Homo sapiens: one gene and its partners. The protein of the gene in region 5 interacts with the protein of the main gene of each other region in a pairwise test. Each region holds a gene or a part of one and is shown on either strand. Other genes may lie near its edges.

Region 1 (3,500 bases), on a different chromosome or scaffold from region 5:
CCAGTTGGCATCTTGGTTCTTTTGTCTTCTGAAAATAAAAATAAGTGCTTGTCTTGTCTTTGGGGGTCAAAGAGAACCGCACTAATTTATTTCCTCGAGGGGGCTTTTCTGGAGGAGAGGATCCTCAGTCCTGTGCCAAGGTTTCACGCTGTTTGGCCACACGCCAGGCCTTTCTTCTGGATCTGGTCTGCACGTCCAGAGATGATGGAGGAATTGCATCAGCATCATATGCACAGTGAAAGGGTGGCTCTTGTCCAGAGAGGCCCATTCCGGGCCTGGCTACATGGCCTCAGGGCCTGGCGGCAGTTTGAAGAGTCTGGCTGCAGATAGGAGCTTTCTTATGTGTCTCTCCTCTGTGATGCCGGCCTCCTGAAGGCAAGTGTGAGACAGAGAAGGCACTTGGCTCAGTGTGCTGAAGCCCGCGGTGGAGAGGGTGCCGGCGTACATGGGCAGACCGATGGAAATGAGCCAATCTGACACAGACGAAATGCACCCAGGAGAGACGGGCTTTCGGCAGATTTCCGTGAGTCCACCACTTGGAATCTGGATAAATTAAGAAAGAATATGATAGAAACGCTCCATGTGTCATCGAGGACTACTTCGCGTATGTCTAAAAGGAACAGCACTGAAATACTGCATTGCTAGACTATTATCAGAAAGCGACAATGCAATGAGTGTCAGAGATCAAGACTAGCAGGAAAAATTCTTCTCTAAGATGAAACAAATCTTTAAGGAAGAGTTCCACAAGGTTCTCGAAGGTGTTGGAATGAGGTCAAATCCCATTTATGTGTCCGAGTCTTCAAACTATAAGCATTTACATATTCTGCTATTTTGTTTCACTGTGGATATGCTCTTGACAAAGAGCCCTAAGGTAGTCTGAAGGGACAAATCTGGGTGATCGTGTGAAATGTAGCATTCAGTGGGTAGGGTTTTTATAAAGGAGACTTTCCACTGTATTTTGAATCTATGTTAACAACCAGAAAATTACATGTTTAGTCAATACAAGTTATGAAGAATTTAAAATACAATAATATCAAGGGTTGGCTGGAACAGGGAAGTGGACATTTAACCTTGACTACTGGGTATATAAAGGGCCTGCACCTTTCAGAAAGGTGATTTGCTAACGAGTATGAAAATCTTTGGGATTTTATACAATTTTGATGAAGCAAACCATCTTCCAGGAATATCTACTCAGAAATTAACCTTTAAAGTCTACAAAGATTTATTAACAAGGATGTTCTTCATTACATTATTTAAAATAAAAGGTTAGAAAAATCTAAATGTTTTAACTATGAGACTCACTACTAGAGTACACTGACCTACTAGAATACTTTGAAATACAATAGCCACCCCCCTGCTTATCCATGGTTTTGCTTTCTACAGCCTGAAAATATTAAATGGGAATTTCCAGAAATAAACAATTCATAAGTCTTATATTGCATGCCATTCTGAGTAGTCTGAAGAAATCTCACACCACCCAGCTCTGTCCCACCTGACAATCATCCCTTTGTCTAACAAATCCACGCTGCCTACACCACCAGCCCCGCAGTCACTTAGTAGCCCGTAGTCATCAGATCAACTGTTGCGGTAATGCAGTACTTGCATTCAAGTCACTCTTATTTGACCTTACAATGGCCCCCAAGTGCAAGAGTAACGATGCTGGCCATTCGCACGTGGCAAAGAGAAGCCCTTAAGTGCTTCCTTTAAGTAAAAAGGTGAGAGTTCTTGACTTAATAAGAAAAGAAAAAAAATTGTATGCTGAGGTTCCTAAGACCTACAGTGAAAACGAATCTTCTATCCATGAAATTGTGAAGGAAAAAGAAATTTGTGTATAATATATACAGGGTTTGGTACTCAGCAAGCTTTCAAGAGATCCACTTGGAGGTCTTGGACCATAATCCCTCATGGATAGGGGGAGACTACTGTATTGATGATATCAATTTTTTTTTTTTTAAGTAACAGGGAAACAGATTCATGATCTGATAATAGCCAACAATCAGGTTTCGGTACTATACATTTACGCATACATTACGCATGTGCAGAGAAATGACTAGACAGAGTTTTAATGGACAAGTAAAAATTGTGTGTATTTATGGTGTAAAACGTGGTGTGTTGATAAATGTACACATTGTGGAATGGCTAAATCAAGCTATTTGACATATGCATTACCTCATATACTATATTTTGTGGTGAGAACACTTAAGATCTGCTGTCCTAGCAATTTTCAAGTATACATTGTTATTAACTGTAGTCACCATGTTGAACAATAGATCTTTGGAAGTTATGCTTCTAACTGAAACTGTGTCATTCAGACGGATTTTATTTTATTTCTTAAGAGATGGGGTCTCACTATGTTGCCCAGGCCGGCATCAAAATTCTGGGCTCAAGCAATCCTCCTGCTTCTGCCTCCCAAGTAACTAGGATTACAGGTGTGCACTATCACGCCCAGCACTAGACGGATCTTTAAAAAGTTTTTCACAGTGTTGGGATTACGGATAATTTTCATTTTTTTTTTCTTTCTGAAAGTGTATTTTTAAACATTTCTAGGCTGACCACATATTACTTTCTCCCCAGCTGTCTCCTTTCCATAGCTACGCAAGCCCTTGCCTACTTGGCAGTTGTTAGTATGGTCATCACTAAGCGTGATCACTAAATGTGCCTCAGGAAGCTGGAGAACTGTGGGCTGCTCACCGCCATGCGGTGCTGCTTCCGAAGCTGCTTCACCCGGATCTGGTCCATGTTGGCGGCGACGTCCCGCTCGGGCTGATCCAAGTCCTCTGCGTATCTCTGCACCAGGGCTTCAGGAATCCCACAGCGGCCATGCTGCCAGGGAGAACAGGAATATGACATCAAGAGTCATAAGGATTTTGTTTTTCTTTCCCTAAGATACACCACATATAACGTAGGGTCTCACTGTCACTTAGACTGGAGTGCAGTGGTGTGATCATGGCTCACTGCAGCCTCAAACTCCTGGGCTCAAGCGATCTTCTCGCCTTGGCCTCCCAAAGTGTTGGGATTCCAGGCGTAAGCCACCACACCCAACCCAAAAGTTTGAATTTGAAATGAATATATTTTCTTTATTGGTCAGGATGAATGCTTTAGAGGGAATACTTTTACATCTTTATCTTAAAGTACTGATGAGCTCTAGGAAAATGTTCTGAAGCATAGTTAAGGCAGAACACAATTATTCCACATTTTTCAGGACAATGCCTTCGCCTCAATCAGATCATTTTGCAAAATACAACTCCTCTAATGTTACTGAAGAGAGTCTTCTAAACTGCAGGAGAGAAGGGCTAACTTCTGCTTTACAGATATTCAACTGTTTGCACTTTATCTGCTACAAGTGATACCACCAGCTCACTAGGCCAGCATTTACTGTATGGTCTTTCTCACTACCTTTCATTTAAAGACATTCACTCAGGAAATATCAAGGAGGGTCAGAGAGGTGGAGGAGGATCTGATTCTAAGGCATTCATTGTCATGAGAATTTTATAATAAAG
Region 2 (3,500 bases), on a different chromosome or scaffold from region 5:
GACTTTTACCAAGACGACTCAGAGTCTACACTGTGGCTATTTCTCTGAAAGCAGGAATGGAACATACACTTTCCAAGAGTCCTGTGCAGCTTCAGTATGCCAGAAACCTGCTCTTTAATCCCAGTTCCAAGATTCTGTGCCAGGATGCTGGCCATCCATGCTGAGAGAAGAAAAACACTCACTGCATCACCAACAGCACTACAGCAGCACCCTGCTTTGACACACCCTCCCCGGCCCCTGGGAAAGGCAAGGAGGGTGAGCCTGGGATTGGGAGTGAGCTGGAGAATGACCCCAGCACAACGGAATCAGGGCAAGCAGCTAAGAACACCACAGCAGAGGTCGGCGGGGATCCTGAGGGGTTCAGTTCCTAACTGTCCCATGCCATCACCACCGCACATTTACATCACACACCCACATGCCCCCAACACACAGGTGCACCCATGAATGCACACACTCACACATGCAGCACACCACATATACCACATGTGTATGCACGCACACATGCATTCAACACAACCATCCCCTATGCCACACATGCATACATACATTCATGCGACACACCACAGACACACAGGGACAAACCCATACCTCCCTGACCCTTCTTTACCTGGGTAGGTGTTTTGAGGCACCACCGTCTGTGGGCAGGCCTGGAACTCTGGCACCTGCAGCTCCTCACGTTTCCTTCTTTCTTCTACCTGGAATGGCTGGAGACTTGGAGAGTCTTTCCAGAGGAGGAAATGGAAAAATTGATTTGTTTTGCACCTACAGCACTACCTGGGAGGGTGCTATCCGAATAGATGCCAGGCTACGATCTGGGGGCGGCCCTGGGCTCCGTCCTGGGGACTGGCAGGGGGTGGCCACTCAATAAGTGTCTGCTGAGTGAATGAACCTGAAGGCAAAATGGGCCAACTCCACAAACATGAGCTCTGACGCTAGACAGAATCGACGTAGATCCGGGTTCTACTCCACCCACTCTATGGCCAGAGACAAGCACTTCCCCCAGCCCCATATTTATTCCCACTTTCTGTGGTGGGTTTTCTATAGTCATCACCACAGGCTCCTGCACACTCCGCACATCCTGCACAAACAGCTTGTGCAGAGCCTACAGGGTAGAGATGGTACAGGAGCTACTGCACCACACCAAGTCTCTGAACGCTTGTTCCAGGTGGGGATGGTGTGTCAAAACCTTGTCTGCTTCATGCCAGCTCTAGGTCCCAAAGGGGAAGAAGGTGTGGAGCTGCTGATGATTCTGTACAAAGCTATTTCCTCCTGAAGGAGCAGATGCTTCGAAGCACCATGGCATGGAGATCATGGGTGCAAGTGCTGGCGACACAGCCTGAAGGAGGGCTGGAAACTGCTGCTGCTGAGCCCCAGCACCTCCCCACACCCCAGTGTCCTCACAGCACCCCTGTACCAGGCAGATGGGAAGACTAGACAGGTGAGGCACCTCAAAGGGCTGCGCTCGGTGCCCAGTTAGGAGACACTCCCTCTGCAACTAGGCTTGTCATGAGTATCTGACTTCACTCCTGGAGGGGCTGCTGCATTGTCAGCACAAACCAGATGTTACTTACAGGCAGAGGAGAAAGACATTCCTATTATTTCCCAGTCCTTGGCCAAGGGAGTACAATTCCAATGCCTGGCAAAATTAAGATCCTCCATTCTTTCTATGAAAAGTCAGGGACAAGGCAAGACATGCAAGACCCACATAGAGTCTGGGGAAATGAAGAAGGCAATTAGGGGCCGCAGAGAGAAGCCAGAGAGTGGGCTCACCTCCGGCTGCCAGCAACCCTTCCCCCTACTCTGTCCACTCAGTTCTGGAATCATTACTCACCCAAGTAGGAGACCTGGGGCACTTCTTTGCCCTGGAGATCCTGCAACTCTGGAACGCGTGGCTCATTCTCCTCTCCCTGGGAGAGATCTGGCTGGGCAGCTAGGTCGTCTGTTCAAAGAAAAAGGCAGGGTACATGTTTATTAGTAATCTGATCCTGCAGCAACCAGGGCTGGTCCAGAAGAGAGAAGGCGGAGGGATGCCCAGCGGGCATGGCACCATCAGGGGCGAGAAGTGAAAAGGCCAGAGCTGGCAGTGCAGGGGCAGTGGGGGCAGCACACGCAGGGAGAGCTATGGGCTTGGGGGTCTCTCTGAGGCTTTCGGGTGTAAAGCAGACATAAAGGGACAAAACGGTAAGAACGATGGAAGAGAAATGGACATACAGCACATGTTCTATTTGGTTCTGATAAGCCTGATGTGGCGAGACAGCAGGTGATGGTCAATCGGACACACTGCCTGTAGGGCCGCTGTGTGCAAATGACCTCCTGTCCAGGTTGGGGGTGAACAGAGAGATCTGATGCAGGCCCCGCTTCCCTGATCCTATGGGACGAAGTTGACTCTTACTCCAAGTGAGAACTCCCCTGCCCAGTTCCCTGGTCTTGAGGTGTGGGGGGAAGTTAAGTCTTACTTGGAGGCATTGAGACCCCGTAATCCTCCCCAATGATGAACTCTCCATAGAAGCCAGTCTGGGCAGGATCTAGAAGGGACCAATCCTCTTCAGAGAAGCATAAAATCATGTCCTTGAATGGAGAAACCCGACTCTGAAAGCACAGGAGAACAGGGATGCCTCAGTCCGGGACGAGCTAGGTGTCTCAGTCTTAGTCCACTGAGGCTGTGACAACACAACGCTGTAGGACGGGCAGTTTCTATACAACAGAAATCTGTTCCTCACAGTTCTGGAGGCTGGACGTCCAAGATCAAGGTGCCAGCAGGCTGGGTGCCTGGTGAGGGCCCACTTCTTGGTCAAAAGACAGGTGTCTTCTGTGTCCTTACATGATGGAGAGGGCAAGGGAGTTCTCTGGGGCCTCTTTTAGGAGGGACTAATCCCACTCATGAGGACTTTGCCCTTGTTACCAGATCATCTCCCCAAAAGTCTCCACTTCCTAATACCATCATCTTGGGGATTACAATTTCAACACAAATTTTGGGGAGATATAAACACTGAAACCATAGCATTCTGCCCCTGGTTCCCCCAAATTCATATCCTTTTCACATGCCAAACAAATTCATTCTATCCCAATAACCCTCAAAGTCTTAATTCATTCCAGCATCAACTCAAAAGTCCGGAGTCCAACATCTCATTTAAATATCATCTAAATCAGTTACGGTTGAAACTCAAGGCACAATTCTACCTGACACAAAATTCTCTCCAGCTGTGAACCTGTGAAATGAAACAAGTTATGTGCCTTCCAAATAGTGGTGAGGCCGGCGCAGTGGCTCACACCTGTAATCCCAGCACCTTGGGAGGCCGAGGCAGGCAGATTACCTGAGGTCAGGAGTTTGAGACCAGCCTGGCCAATACGGTTAAACCTCATCTCTACCAAAAATACAAAAAGCAGCCAGGCGTGGTGGTGAGCACCTATAATCCCAGCTACTTGGGAGGCTGAGGCAGGAGAATCATTTGAACCCGGCAGGCGGAGTCTGCAGTGAGCTGAGATCATGCCACTGCACT
Region 3 (3,849 bases), on a different chromosome or scaffold from region 5:
ATAGACCTCAGCCCTGAAAGCAGTGATCGGAGTTTTTCAGATCCCCAGTCTAGCACAGACAGGGTAGGTGATATCCATATTTTGGAAGTCACAAATAACCTAGAGCATAAGTCCACTTTTAGTATTTCGAATTTTCTTAACAAGAGCAGAGGAAATAACTTTACTGCAAATCAGAACAATGATGATAATATTCCAAACACCACTAGTGACTGCAGGCTGGAGAGTGAGGCCCCCTATTTGTTGAGTCCAGAGGCTGGGCCTGCAGGTGGGCCCTCCTCTGCCCCTGGCTCCCATGTAGAGAACCCATTTAGTGAACCTGCAGACTCCCACTTCGTCAGGCCTATGCAGGAGGTGATGGGCCTGCCGTGTGTGCAGACTTCAGGCTACCAAGGAGGAGAACAGTTTGGGATGGACTTTTCCAGGTCTGGTTTGGGCCTCCACTCCTCCTTCTCCAGGGTAATGATAGGTTCCCCAAGGGGAGGAGCCAGTAACTTTCCTTACTACCGCCGCATAGCTCCCAAAATGCCAGTTGTAACTTCCGTCAGGAGCTCACAGATCCCAGAAAACTCTACCAGTTCTCAGCTAATGATGAATGGAGCTACGTCCTCATTTGAAAATGGCCATCCTTCCCAGCCTGGCCCTCCACAGTTGACCAGGGCATCTGCAGATGTTCTGTCAAAGTGCAAGAAGGCCTTATCAGAGCACAATGTTTTGGTTGTAGAGGGAGCTCGCAAGTATGCCTGCAAAATCTGCTGCAAAACTTTTCTGACTTTGACAGATTGCAAGAAGCACATCCGTGTTCACACAGGTGAAAAGCCTTACGCCTGCCTGAAGTGTGGCAAGAGGTTTAGTCAGTCCAGCCACCTGTATAAGCACTCAAAGACTACCTGCCTGCGCTGGCAGAGCAGCAATCTTCCCAGCACTTTGCTCTAGCTGTTTGTCCTTACAAGACAACGCTGAGGCCAGTTGTCAGACTGAATTTCTTTTGGTAAGCAGTTAATGCCTTTGGGTTCGAGGCTTCCAGCTGCCCAGTGGCTCTTAAACAGTTTAGCAACTAATAACCGGAGAACTAACATGTAGTATTTGTGCTGCTGCATTTCTGAGTGAAGTGCACGTCTTGGGAAAGGGATGCAATCCCTGAAACCAGGTGCTTCCTTGGGGTTGAGTAATGCAGTCAGAAAGTAGTTTGTAATTGATATTAAAAGTGGCACATTTAAAAATTTAAAAATTGAAGTGCAAAAAAAATTTTTTAGCAATTTTTGTAAAACTGTGTAGCATTTAAATTTCCTATACCTTCTGATGGGAGTATTATATCCCTGTATAGTGATGCAAAATGCACTTATGTGTAACCAGTGGTGATTTGGTGCCTGTCTTAAAGGAAGGCCTTTGAGGACACACCTGTCTGCCACAAATGCTTTAAAGTGTATCATGAGCTAGTCCTAGGCCTCAAAGTACTGTATTTTTTATTTTTACCTGATTTGCAGTCATAAACACTGCACTTTGGTGCTGACACTGGGTCCAGAGTGAGCATTCTCTTGGACTATTAGATGTATATACTTTTGAATACATCACTGTTGGATAGATGTTTTAACAGTTTTTTCTGGTTTAAAAACCAAATTGTAAATGGAGTGTGTACTTGTAGAGAGTGACAAGGTATTGTTTCCCTATGTGCTGTTTGAGCAGTATTTTAACCAACTTGTATTACAGATGTTACAGTTCCATGTTAGGAAGTCAGAAAAGACTTGTGTTTGTCTTTGTTCTGCTGATGTGGAGTCATGTTTTGTGGGGTCTTCCATGGCACATTTACCTGTTGCTCCGTCCAGATGTTGAGGGCCAGTCTAGGCTGACACATCCTACCCGAGGACAAGCCTGTTCTCCATTTCTTCACTCTCCCCTCCCCATATAGCAACTCTCCCAGGTTTAGATTACCGTTTTCGACGACAGATTAACCAAAAATGCCCCACACAGGTTTTATTACTGTTATATACTATACTTTTAACAGTACAGACCCTAAATTTTATTATTTGTTGCTCCCCCAATCTGATACCAAATGTTTAAAGTTGTTTGAAATCCAAACATGGTAGTGTTCATGGGTAAATATTTTCTAGGCTATGTAAGAGTTAGCAGCCCATAGCATAGAAGTAATCAAGTAGCATCTGAGACTGTTGGAGGCACTAGGGCCTCTCTGGGCCCTACAGCCTCACTTCCCCAGCCTCACCTTGCTGTCCTCTGACACTGCCATCAGGGCTGTTAGTGGCACCTGTATGAGGCCAAGTGTGCGTCCAGGGGAACAGCACAGGTTAATGCGTCTCCCTAGAACTCATGAAGTCAGTTTAATTCATGCATGAACATGAGTTCATTTTATGTTTTATATAGCTTTCTTAGACATACCAAACCATCATTCATAAATCAGATAAATTATTCAGTTTTTGTGTTTAGAAAGCTAAGTATGTGTAGCTGGAAACAAAAATGAGCGTGTTTTCTCTCCTGTTAATCTAGAGTGTGCAGTTACACATGTGTGGATAATTTCATGTTCCAGGGGCGCTTGGCATCTCCCATGGACTGATTCCCAGGAAGAAAAGCCCAAAGGGAAACCCACGATTCCTTTCGAGTAGATGTGGGAAAGAGCCCATTGGAGGATATGAGGTCCTGTGAAATTCAGTTGTGTGTGTGGCTCCTTGTTAGCAGTCATGTTGACATGGTGTTAGGAGGCTCCCCATCCACCCTTTACATGATGTAGGGACCAGTGTCTTGTGAGATTAACCTTGGGACACAGTGGGTTAGCCTGGAGAAAATGAGAGGCCCTGCCTGGACCCAGGGAGAGGAGCCAGTGACACAGGCAGAGCGGTGCAGCCCTCCTTCCCTTCCATTTGGAGGAGGTGGTGCCAGGAGCCTGCCCGCTTACCTCTGCTGAAGCATAAGTGGACTTTGCTTTTGGGGCTTATCTCTGATACATGCTGGAGCCCTGCCTCTCCACTGCTAGATGGAACCTGGAATCTCTCATCTACCTCTTAGTCTGTCAGTTTCTACGTGTGAGAAGCAAGCTTGTGGGCCAGTGTCCTTGTACATGCTGTAGCACTTAAAAAATAATTCCAGGGTTCCCTGGAAAACCAGTCCCAGGGTTCCTATGATCTGTAGTTTCTACCTGGATTATAACTGGTTTTGGGTACCTGAATTTTGATTGGTTAGCCTTAATTATAGTCTGGCGTGATCATGTAGAATCTTTTCTGGTGAACAGATCATAAAGTTCTATCAAGGAGTTCTATCAAGGCATCCATGTCAGTGGTGCTATGCTGGTTACAACTTGAGATTTTTGAAATAAAAAATTTGTCATATTCATGCCTCTAAATATGTGTTCTTTTTCTTTACGTTATTAAGGTTGAAACCAAAGAGGGTAATATCTCTTTGCCAGCCCTTCTTTGACTAGTACTTTGTTTTAAACCAAACCTTCTATTAACAGTTAATTGGTCGTTCCTCTCAAATCATTCCCTTCTGCCTTCCCCCGCCTTTTCTGTCTTTGAGCTACGCACATGCATGAGATTTTGCTTTTCAGTCTACCCAGTTGCTCTCTGAGGGCCTGCGTAATCTTGTGCTGCTCCCTGGACCTGCCTCCCAAGTTGGAAACTCCATCTGCCAGTTTGGCTTGGCTGCTGGGAAGAGCTGGAAGCTGATTCCTTGAGCACAGAGCAAGGCATTGGCAATGGCAGTGCTGTGGCCTGACCTTGGAGAGAAGTGGGTAAGGTGGTGATTAAAAAAAAAAAAAATCCACCTGGGGGCAGGGAGGGGCTGGGGGGACAGAATGGGCAAAGGGAACAATATGTGTAGGTGCTGAAACTAATTTTAAAATTA
Region 4 (4,159 bases), on a different chromosome or scaffold from region 5:
TGGGAGGCTGAGGCGGGTGGATCACGAGGTCAGGAGATCGAGACCATCCTGACTAACACGGTGAAACCCCGTCTCTACTAAAAAATACAAAAAATTAGGCGGGCGTGGTGGGCCAAGATCGCGCCACTGCACTCCAGCCTGGGGGACAGAGTGAGACTCTGTCTCAAAAAAAAAAAAAAAAAAAGGAATCGCTTGAACCTGGGAGGCAGAGGTTGCAGTGAGCTGAAATTGCGCCACTGCACTCCAGCCTCAGTGACAGAGCAAGACTCAAAAAAAAAAAGGCAGCTGGGCGCGGTGGCTCATGCCTGTAATCCCAGCACTGCGGGAGGTGGAGATGGGCGGATCACGAGGTCAGATCTGTCAGAAGATCGAGACCATCCTGGCTAACACGGTGAAACCCTGTCTCTACTAAAAATCAAAAAAAATTAGCCAGGCATGGTGATAGGCGCCTGTAGTCCCAGCTACTCGGGAGGCTGAGGCAGGAGAATGGCGTGAATCGGGGAGGCTGAGCTTGCAGTGAGCCGAGATCGCGCCACTGCACTCCAGTCTGGGTGACAGAGTGAGACTCTGTCTCAAAAAAATAAAAGATTAAAAAAAAAAAAGGGTAGGAACTTTCAGCCTGGGCAGAGCCTTTATTCTTGTCACCCAGCAGGGGTGATAAGGTGCCACCAACCTTCTGAGCTGCCATCTAAGGATGGTAAGAGCAGCCTAGCATCAGCTCATGCTCCCTTAGATGTTAGTTTTTGGGGCCAATACAAAATCTTTAGGTGGCCCTCCACCACTGCTGCTCTGTCTGTCTGCTGTTGGGGAGCCAGGGAGAGGCTGCACCCCTAGAAGGGGTCCCACTTCTGGATCTGGTTTGCTGCGTTTGGCCAGGTCCTCATTGTGAGCCTTGCGGATGTGGCGGTAGAGGTCCCCTGACTGCGTGTAGCTCCGCAGGCAGTAGCGGCACTCATAGGGTCGCTCACGTGTGTGCACCGTGGCATGTCGCCGTAGTGTGTAAGAGCATGAGAAGGTCTTCCCACATGTCTTGCAGGTGGGAACATCCTCAGTAAAAACCCCAAAGCTTCCTGGAGCTGCTTCGTACTCAGAAGACAGGTAAAGTGGCTCATGCAGGGATGCGGGTGCAGGCAGAGGTGAGGTCACCAGTCCTCGATGATACTGCCCTGCACCTGGCAGCAGATGGTAGGGTAGATGAGGGTCTGTTGGCAGGAAGTGGTCACTTGGCCCCACCTCCTCCAGTCCTGCTGCCCCTGGGTCTTCAAAAGCCTCTGGCTGGGAGGGCTGTGCCCCATACACTGCTCCTCCAGATGGGAAAGCTCTCTCAGGACCCTGAGGCTGTTCATCTGACACATCAGTCTCTTCATCAGAGATCACAATAGCTTCAACTTTCACCTGGACCAGCTCAGCTTCAGCTGGGGCTGGAGCCTGGGATGGAACTGGAGCTGAGACAGGGGCTGGGGCTGACGTTGGGGCTGAGGCTGGGGGATAGAAGCCTTGCAGTGGTCCTCCAGGATCCTTTGGTTCCACCACCCTCAGACTCTCAGGACCCACATCAAGAGATGGCAGTGGCTCCAATGAAACTGCTGAGATGCCAGAAGAGAAGTAGTTTGTAGGAATGGTCTCAGTGGAGCTACTAGGGCTGGCAAGAGAGACATCAGCCACTGGTGGATGAGGTGCCCGCAGATGTGGTGCGTCAACCTCCATGCCAGGCTGTGTAGTGTCAGCCCCACTAGACATTGGTGGCTCATCTGGAGGACGGACAGTAGGTGAGGGAGCAGCAGAGCCTTTCCATTCCCCTTTGCCCCAGTGGCCTGATGTCTCAGCAGATGCCAACGAAGGTTGGGTGCCACGGGAAGTACTAGACAAAAACTCCAAACTAGGAAGCTGTGAGTTGGTTTCCTCCTCCTTCTTGGTACTGTCTGCCTCTGCCAGGGCCCGGGCTTGAAGCCGCCGCTTACACACCTTGACGATGTCATTCATGTGCAAGTAGCTGGCAGCTGCCAGCACATCCTCCACAGGGGTATCCCCTCTCAGGGTCAGCTGGCCAGCATACATAAAGTCCAGAAGCAGCCCAAAGGCTGGGGCTGTGACAATTTCATTGTGAATACACACCAGATCCCTCTTGTCCAATTCCCGCTCCTTGTAGAAAAGCTGGAAGAATGGGCTGCAGGAGGCCAGCACAGCCCGATGGGCCAAGAACTGGGTACTACCCACCATCACGGTGCAGTCACAAAGGAAACCCTGGGACCGCTGCTCCCGGAGGCTCTGCAGCAGCTGCTGACTGTGTTCTGGGAACTCCATAGTACCCCACGAAGGAAAGGGGGCCCAAAAAAGGTCCCCACCAGTGGCTCCCTGAGAAAAAAGGGCAGTGAGTTAAGACAGGTAACCTCCCCAGCAACCTTATCAGCCCTTAACTATCACTTGCCACTCCAAAACAATCGCTTAAGTTACTGCCCTTCTTTCTCCTAGGTCACACCCAAAGCTCTCCCATTAGCTCCGCCCACCTCGGCCTAACCTTAGAACAGGCCCCACCCCCGTCCGATAAGCCCTGCCCCCGGAAGTCCCGCCCCTTAGCCACCCTCCGCTTCCTTGATGCCCACCCGGTAGCGTCCAACGGCTCCACGAAGTAGAGATCTTTTTCGCTCCCAGGCCTTGCCAGGCGATGCCTCTACGCCCCACTTCGAGAACTCCCTAAGCATCTCCCTCACGCATTCCAGGGGCTAAGGACTACCAGGGTGGGAACTAGCGGAGAAAGCTGATACCTCACCCACCACCGAGCAGCCACAGGGCGAGCTCCGCCCCTTCCCACCTTCTCAGCTTTAATTGGCTTAAGATTGCCCTCCCCTGTCACGGATTGGTCCGCTCTCCACTAACCATCCTCCCTCTAACTGCCGTCTACAATTGGGTGCTCGCCGCCATCGCTTTTGCAGTCAGGCGTTGGATTGGGTGACGCTCCTGTCCTCAACTTTTCCTCTTCGTCCCGCCTTCCTTGCCTCCGAGCCCTCAGGATTGGCTGAGCTTCTCCTTCTACCTAATCCAGCAGGCAGGAGGTACCCGGCTCCGAGTCGCTGAACGCGGCGCTCTCCTGGCGAGGCTGGAGGTCGGGAACCCTGCAGTGTCGGACCCGAGCTGACAGCAAGCCACTCCCGCTACAGGCTGACAGGGAAAAAGAGAACCAACTAGGCCAGGCGCAGTGCTTCACGCCTGTAATCCCAGGACTCTGGGAGGCCGAGGAGGGCGGATCACTTGGGGTCAGGAGTTCGATACCAGCCTGGCCAACATGCTGAAACCCCGTCTCTACTAAAAATACAAAAATTAGCAGGTCTTGGGGGCGCGCGCCTGTAATCCCAGCTACTGGGGAGGCTGAAGCAGGAGAATCACTTGAACCCGGGAGGCGGAGGTTGCAGTGAGTCAAGATCGTGCCACTGCACTCCAGCCTGGGCGACAGAGTAAGACCCTATCCCCCCACCCCCCCAAAAAAAGAGAACCAACTGGTGACTGTGGGCAATAGCCCCACGTCCCTGAACTGCGTTTGTCTCTTGAAGGTCCCTTCCTCTCAAAAATTCTAAGATTTGCCGGGTTCGGTGGCTCACGCCTTTAATCCCAGCAGTTTGGGAGGCTGAGACGGGCAGATCACTTGAGGTCCGGAGTTCAAGAGCAGCCTGGCCAACATAGTGAAACCCCATCTCTACTAAAAATACAAAAATCAGCTGGGCATGGTGGCGCGTGCCTGAAATCCCAGCTTCTAGGGAGGCTGAGGCAGGAGAATCTCTTGAACCCAGGAGGCAGAGGTTGCAGTGAGCCAAGATAGCGCCACTGCACTCCAGCCTGGGAGACAGAGCAAAACTCCATCTAAAACAAACAAACAAAAAAACATTTTAAGATGCCCTACTGCTCCACTCCTCCAAGCTAAGTTTCCGGGGCTCCCGGCTCAGTGATGGCATGAAAGAACTAGCAGCTACAGGGATGATGTCGTGGTGTCCCTAGCCTGGACTCTACAGTCAATTTACAGTGAGAGGATAGAGTGTTCTTTGTTTCCAGAGCGTGCTGAGCAGGTGCTGGTAGGAAGGGTAAGAATGGGGTCAGGATCATAAAATGTCCCAGGACAGGAGAGAAGAAGCAAAAACCGTGTCTACTGAAGAAATCTTTGAGAGTC
Region 5 (3,500 bases):
ACATGCACACACACACACATCACACAACACATACACACCACACACACACCTCACACATCACACAAAACACACCCCACACATACCACATGCACACGCACGCACACCACACACACACCTCACACATCACACAAAACACACTCCACACATACCACATGCACACACACACATCACACAGCACATACACGCACACACCACACACACCTCACACATCACACAAAACACACCCCACACATACCACATGCACACACACACATCACACAGCACACAACACATACACACACACCACACACACACCTCACACATCACACAAAACACACCCCACACATACCACATGCACACACACACATCACACAGCACATACACACACACCACACACACACCTCACACATCACATAAAACACACACACACCACACAAACACACACACACACACAGTGATTACTGTGTGTCAGGCATTTTCCTAAGAGTTTTGCAAACTTAATCCATTTAATCCTCTCACCAACCACATAAAGTAGGTATTATTATTGTTGTTATTATGATGATGATGATGATGATTATTATTTTTTTTGTTGTTGTTGTTTTCAAGCTTTTATTTTTTTATTTTTTTTTTTATTTTTTTTTTTTTCAGACAGAACCCATGCTCTTTATTAGATTATGTTGCCTATGTTTAAAAGTGTTCAAATTCAGTCTTTTACATTGAAAATAACTTTTTTTTTTTTTTTTAATTATACTCTAAGTTTTAGGGTACATGTGCACATTGTGCAGGTTTGTTACATATGTATACATGTGCCATGCTGGCGCGCTGCACCCACTAATGTGTCATCTAGCATTAGGTATATCTCCCAATGCTATCCCTCCCCCCTCCCCCGAACCCACCACAGTCCCCAGAGTGTGATATTCCCCTTCCTGTGTCCATGTGATCTCATTGTTCAATTCCCACCTATGAGTGAGAATATGCGGTGTTTGGTTTTTTGTTCTTGCGATAGTTTACTGAGAATGATGGTTTCCAATTTCATCTATGTCCCTACAAAGGATATGAACTCATCATTTTTTATGGCTGCATAGTATTCCATGGTGTATATGTGCCACATTTTCTTAATCCAGTCTATCATTGTTGGACATTTGGGTTGGTTCCAAGTCTTTGCTATTGTGAATAGTGCCGCAATAAACATACGTGTGCATGTGTCTTTATAGCAGCATGATTTATAGTCCTTTGGGTATATACCCAGTAATGGGATGGCTGGGTCAAATGGTATTTCTAGTTCTAGATCCCTGAGGAATCGCCACACTGACTTCCACAATGGTTGAACTAGTTTACAGTCCCACCAACAGTGTAAAAGTGTTCCTATTTCTCCACATCCTCTCCAGCACCTGTTGTTTCCTGACTTTTTAATGATTGCCATTCTAACTGGTGTGAGATGATATCTCATAGTGGTTTTGATTTGCATTTCTCTGATGGCCAGTGATGATGAGCATTTCTTCATGTGTTTTTTGGCTGCATAAATGTCTTCTTTTGAGAAGTGTCTGTTCATGTCCTTCGCCCACTTTTTGATGGGGTTGTTTGTTTTTTTCTTGTAAATTTGGTTGAGTTCATTGTAGATTCTGGATATTAGCCCTTTGTCAGATGAGTAGGTTGCGAAAATTTTCTCCCATGTTGTAGGTTGCCTGTTCACTCTCATGGTAGTTTCTTTTGCTGTGCAGAAGCTCTTTAGTTTAATTAGATCCCATTTGTCAATTTTGGCTTTTGTTGCCATTGCTTTTGGTGTTTTGGACATGAAGTCCTTGCCCACGCCTATGTCCTGAATGGTAATGCCTAGGTTTTCTTCTAGGGTTTTTATGGTTTTAGGTCTAACGTTTAAATCTTTAATCCAGATGATGATGATTATTGAGACGGAGCTTCGCTCTTGTTGCCCAGGCTGGAGTGCAGTGGCACGATCTCTGCTCACCACAGCCTCCGCCTCCCGGGTTCAAGCAATTCTTCTGCCTCAGCCTCCTAAGTAGCTGGGATTACAGGCATACACCACCACGCCTGGGTAATTTTGTATTTTTAGTAGAGATGGGGTTTCCTCATGTTGGTCAGGCTGGTCTCGAACTCCTCATCACAGGTGATTCACCCGCCTTGGACTCCCAAAATGCTGGGATTACAGGCATGAGCCACCACGCCCAGCCTGGTACTATTATTATTAACCCATTTTGGGGGATGGGAACACTGGGGCCCAGAGAAGTTTAGTGGCTTCCCCAGAGTCACACAATAAGTGGTGAAGCTGGGCTTTGAGTCCACACCCTGCGGGCAGGCCTCTCCAAGCTGCCTCAGCGGCAGAGCTGTGGCCACAAAGGAAGGCTGAGCTGGGGAGGGATCCTGGGACTGCAGCAGGCACATCTTTGTATCCAAGGGATTTGGCCTCTGTCTTGGTCCTGGGGCCGGGTAACACTGTGTAGCAGGACACTCACTGCTCACATGACATTGTATCTGGGAGAAGGGCAGGGTGGCATGTGGACCTTTTGTCTGGAAAGGGTCACCCTGGGCCGCAGCCGTGTAACCAGGTAGGGCTCCTCCTGACACCAGAGGAGACGTGGCCTCAGTTCTACTCAAGTCAATGGAGTTTTCAGGCTGTTGGTAAGAAGGGGGCTTGGGCTTCTGAGAGTACGTAGACAACCCCTGCCTTGTCCGCAGCCTTGAAGGGTATGCCGAAGGACCTAGAATCCAGCTGGCACTACCTCACTTGTTGCTGGCACAGGGCATTGCCCATGATGGCACATAGGATACCTCTTACAGGCCCTAGCAGTGTTAGATCCAAACTGCTGGGCTTTAGCTAAGGCCCCGCTACCCTGATGGCAGGAAGTGGGATGAGCTCTGGGCAGGTGGATGTTTATAGGGTAAGCAAGGCTGCGGATCAGCCCTGACTCCCATCCCCCACTGTGCCCTACTGCCCTTTGGGTTTTCTGTGTACTGCCTGTTCACCCACAGTCATCTGAGTCTCTGCAGGGTGGGCAGATGGTGGAGGAGGAAGTGAAGGAGGGGGTGGAAGGAGGTGGGCCCTGTGTGGTGTCAAAGCACACTTGTCCATCAGCTCCTGAGCTGGACTGGTCAGCTCCCTGGAGCCCCTATGGCGGCAGGCTGAGGGCCCCTCCCTTCATGACATCCTGTCTTGATTTTCTAGGATCCTCCCACCACTGGAAGGCCCCCCTGCCCAGGCATCCCCGAGCAGCACCATGCTTGGTGAGGGCTCCCAGCCTGATTGGCCAGGGGGCAGCCGCTATGACTTGGACGAGATTGATGCCTACTGGCTGGAGCTCATCAACTCGGAGCTTAAGGAGATGGGTAGGTGACCACTGCATTAAGAATGGGATCACGGCTGGGCAGGGAGGGTTTTCTCCCCATCCCGAGAGGGACAGTGGCCCAGGCAGGGCTATGGTATGGCATGGATCTGGAGGGAGTCTCCATACTGCATTACTGAATGGGGACCTCACTGGTTAGTGTCTCTGTGCCACCTGAAGTTT
Region 6 (3,500 bases), on a different chromosome or scaffold from region 5:
TGTTAAATGACTGAAAGACAAATGAAGATTGTATTATAACTGCTATAAATTAACTTAAAGTGAGACTGAGACTGGTAAATGGTATTAATAAAAGGTTTTTTTTAAGCCAGGTGTGGTGGCTCACGCCTGTAATCCCAGCACTTTGGGAGGCCAAGGCAGGCAGATCACTTGAGGTCAGGAGTTCGAGATCAGCCTGATCAACATGGAAAAACCCCGTCCCTAATAAAAATACAAAATTAGCCAGGCGTCATGGCGCATGGCTGTAATCCCAGCTACTCAGGAGGCTGAGGCAGGAGAATTGCTTGAACCCAAGAAGTGGAGGTTGCAGTGAGCTGAGATCACGCCATTGCGCTCCAGCCTGGGCAACAAGAGCGAAACTCCATCTAAACAAAAGTTTTTTTTAAATGTAAGATGTTAGCACTCTAAAAAGATGTAGTAGTTTGAGTGTGGACTCTAAAACCAGGCTGCATGACTTAAATCCCAGCTCTGCTATTTATAAGCTTTGTGTTCTTGGGCAAGTCGCTCTGCACTGTGCCTCAGAGTTTCCTTATCTGTACATTGGACAGAATATAATAGCACTTACCTCCTAGGCAGGATAAGTGGATTGAAAGAGTTTATGTATGTAAACCCCCAAAACAATGTCTGATACATAAGAATTAATCTCAGTAAAGGCTATGCTATGGTCTGAATGTTTGTGTTTCTGCAAAACTCATATGTTGAAACCTAATCACCAATGTGATGGTGTTAGGATGTGGATTCTTTGGGAGGTAATTAGGCTCTACCCCCATGAATGGACTTATTGCCCTTATAAAAGAGGCCCCAGAGAGTTGCCTTGTCCCTTCCACCATGAGAAAACACAGCAAAAAGGCACCATCTATGAACCAGAAAGCAGGCCCTCACCAAACACTGAATCTGCCAGTACCTTGATCTTGGGACTTCCCAGCCTCCAGAACTGTGAGAAATAAATTTCTGTGTGTAAGCCTCCCAGTTTATGGTATATTGTTATAGCAGCCCAAACTGACTAAGACAGGCTATTATTTTAACTTAAAACAATTACCCTACTTAAAGAATCCATGAAATGACCACGTAATTTTTAACTGCTCTGATAGCTCCTTTAAGAAATGAGAAAAAAAAAACCATGTTGTACATTTTTGGTTCATAAAGGAGTATGATATAAAAAGGTTACTGCTACTCACTAGTTTTATTTCTTAAATATTTGTTTATTGAAAACTCAGTTTTGACAACCAGATGGCATTGAAAATCACTAATATATAAGGTGAAAACATAACATCATATACAGCTCCCAAAACAGCTTCCTCTCTTACAGGCAAAAATGCCTAGTAAGTATTAACAGGACATTCTCTTTATTGACTATTTTAAAGAATAATTTCTAGACATTTTTCTATGATTTTCCCACAGAGCCTTGCACATGGTAGGTTCTCAATATGTACTTAGTGAATGAATGTCACCAGTGTCGTGACTTTAACACAGTTTGAATGAATTCTTAATGCCTTCTAGCCACACTATATAAATGTAATCAAGATGGAATTACATCAGGTTGTCAGATGCACAGCTTTAGAAAGGAAAGTTAGGGAAATAAAACACAAGTTTATATATATTAAATTAACACAACTTATTAAGTAAAGACATTTGAGTTAAAATGAAGCAAAAATTTAAAAATTATACTTACCTATGGTCTTCACTTGAAGTGATGATCTCATTATTTGAAGTTACTGAAGTTGTTCCAGACCCAACTAACATAGGCTGGTTTAAAAGACAGAAAAATGACAATGATTTTCTACCTTAAAATTCCATTAAAGAGAAAAATCATTAAAATTGATGAATACTTATATAAACACACATACAAATTGCTGATATATAAGATCTATCCAAATTTTCTTATAAACAGGAACACATAGTAATAAAAGTTTCAACAGCCAAAAATAAGCTCAAATTAACATTTAGGATAGTTTCCAATGCTCCAAAAAAATTTAAATGTTACTCAGTTTAAACTCCCATTTTATCTAAACTAAATACATAGTCAAAGATAAAAATAAAAGTTGTATTGGAACTCCTTAACTGTTCTCATCCTTTGAAGATTTGCTACTCTCTCTCACTCCATCCCCCTTTCTGCTCCCCACATACACACAAGAGCCATGAAGAACCCACCAAAGACTTAAAAATTGTGCCCTACTTCTGGCACAGTGGCTCACGCCTGTAAGGCCAAAGTAGGCAGATCGCTTGAACGCAGGAGTTCTAGAACAGCCTGGGCAATATAGCAAAACCCCATCTCTCCAAAAAATACAAAAAATTAGCTGGGCATGGTGGCATGCGCCTGTCATTCCGGCTACTCGGGAGGCTGAGGTGGGAAGATCACTTGAGCCTGGGAGTTTGAGGCTGCAGTGAGCCGTCACTGTACCACTGCTCTCCAGCCTGGGTGAGAGAAGGAGACCCTGTCTCAAAAATAAAAATAAAAATGCCCTACTTATCTAATGGGCTTGGAGGAGAGCCTTTGGTGAGAGGAAGGAAGGGATTCTATCAATCCTGGGACTGTCATAATGATTAGTATTCATCATTTTTAGTTTAAATATGTTATCTATTTTTTGAGACTTATTTATTTTTTGGGACATTATGACAATTTTTTTTTTTTACTCAGAAATACCTAGAAAAATAAAAAAGACAATAAAGAATACGAGTGTCAAGACTTGCTATTATATAATATGAACCTGGAATTTCTTCAAAATGTAGAAGACTGCCAAAACATCTTTAAGTCCTAGAAAGTCTTTCTCTACAAATGTTTCAAAATATCCCAAGAATTGCTCAATTCTAATGTATATGTCCAACTAACTATTTTGGAGAGTTTAGACAAGAATTAATACAGAAAATACTCCATACCTTTGAATCCTTTGGCTTCTTTTTCTTGCTTTTGTTTTTCACCTTGGTTGAACTAAACTAAAAAATGGGGGGAAAAATCAGTGAACACTCAAATAACAGCATTATGAAGCTCAACATAAAGAAACCATATGAGTTTTTACAGACTAGCCATAAGTTAAATGTACATAAAATGTTTAACAAAAATAACACTACAGTGTATCAGCCCAAGTGCTACGATTTATAATAGAAAACAAACAAAATTTAATAATACTAATGTATACTAAAATTAAGTTGTTCCAACATTTTTATCTTATTTTCCACAGGGTTGGACTGTTATTTCAAGTAATTAATCAGACTTTTAAGTAATTCCAGTTAGATGCCATAATAGTAAATTTATTATTAATATATTTCTTTTACTAAGCCAAACTAGACATTCTGCACCTGACCAGACACTGGGGCACAAACAGTGAATAAAGAAGCCTTCAGCTCCTTATGGAGTATTTCAGCTGTGTTTCCCTGCTTAGCTGGGCAATATTTGATGGAGCAGATTAAGACAAAATTTCATATAGATAGATGATTTGCTCCTGAAAATCAGTAAACAGGCATTTTTCTCTTTGAAAACTGCC

What was found.
Region 1: the proteins of JADE2 (region 5) and SASH1 interact in a two-hybrid assay, tested with the Homo sapiens proteins (one large-scale study listed by BioGRID).
Region 2: the proteins of JADE2 (region 5) and ZNF496 interact in a two-hybrid assay, tested with the Homo sapiens proteins (one large-scale study listed by BioGRID and IntAct).
Region 3: the proteins of JADE2 (region 5) and ZBTB5 interact in a two-hybrid assay, tested with the Homo sapiens proteins (one large-scale study listed by BioGRID and IntAct).
Region 4: the proteins of JADE2 (region 5) and ZBTB3 interact in a two-hybrid assay, tested with the Homo sapiens proteins (one large-scale study listed by BioGRID).
Region 6: the proteins of JADE2 (region 5) and TTC3 interact in a two-hybrid assay, tested with the Homo sapiens proteins (one large-scale study listed by BioGRID and IntAct).

What each region holds. Positions count from the first base shown.
Region 1 is NC_000006.12:148,545,338-148,548,837, reverse strand, and holds part of SASH1 (SAM and SH3 domain-containing protein 1), read right to left. Parts: intron 2,824-3,500; coding exon 2,692-2,823; intron 544-2,691; coding exon 280-543; 3' UTR 1-279. UniProt on the Homo sapiens protein: Is a positive regulator of NF-kappa-B signaling downstream of TLR4 activation. It acts as a scaffold molecule to assemble a molecular complex that includes TRAF6, MAP3K7, CHUK and IKBKB, thereby facilitating NF-kappa-B signaling activation.
Region 2 is NC_000001.11:247,307,868-247,311,367, forward strand, and holds part of ZNF496 (zinc finger protein 496), read right to left. Parts: intron 2,590-3,500; coding exon 2,457-2,589; intron 1,940-2,456; coding exon 1,832-1,939; intron 722-1,831; coding exon 608-721; intron 161-607; coding exon of another isoform or gene 6-160; exon of another isoform or gene 1-5. UniProt on the Homo sapiens protein: DNA-binding transcription factor that can both act as an activator and a repressor.
Region 3 is NC_000009.12:37,437,602-37,441,450, reverse strand, and holds the end of ZBTB5 (zinc finger and BTB domain-containing protein 5), read left to right. Parts: coding exon 1-933; 3' UTR 934-3,349; downstream 3,350-3,849. UniProt on the Homo sapiens protein: May be involved in transcriptional regulation.
Region 4 is NC_000011.10:62,751,361-62,755,519, forward strand, and holds the start of ZBTB3 (zinc finger and BTB domain-containing protein 3), read right to left. Parts: upstream 2,801-4,159; 5' UTR 2,604-2,800; intron 2,356-2,603; 5' UTR 2,305-2,355; coding exon 730-2,304; 3' UTR 1-729.
Region 5 is NC_000005.10:134,556,670-134,560,169, forward strand, and holds part of JADE2 (E3 ubiquitin-protein ligase Jade-2), read left to right. Parts: intron 1-3,160; coding exon 3,161-3,321; intron 3,322-3,500. UniProt on the Homo sapiens protein: Scaffold subunit of some HBO1 complexes, which have a histone H4 acetyltransferase activity. Acts as an E3 ubiquitin-protein ligase mediating the ubiquitination and subsequent proteasomal degradation of target protein histone demethylase KDM1A.
Region 6 is NC_000021.9:37,160,254-37,163,753, reverse strand, and holds part of TTC3 (E3 ubiquitin-protein ligase TTC3), read right to left. Parts: intron 2,953-3,500; coding exon 2,896-2,952; intron 1,765-2,895; coding exon 1,691-1,764; intron 1-1,690. UniProt on the Homo sapiens protein: E3 ubiquitin-protein ligase which catalyzes the formation of 'Lys-48'-polyubiquitin chains. Mediates the ubiquitination and subsequent degradation of phosphorylated Akt (AKT1, AKT2 and AKT3) in the nucleus.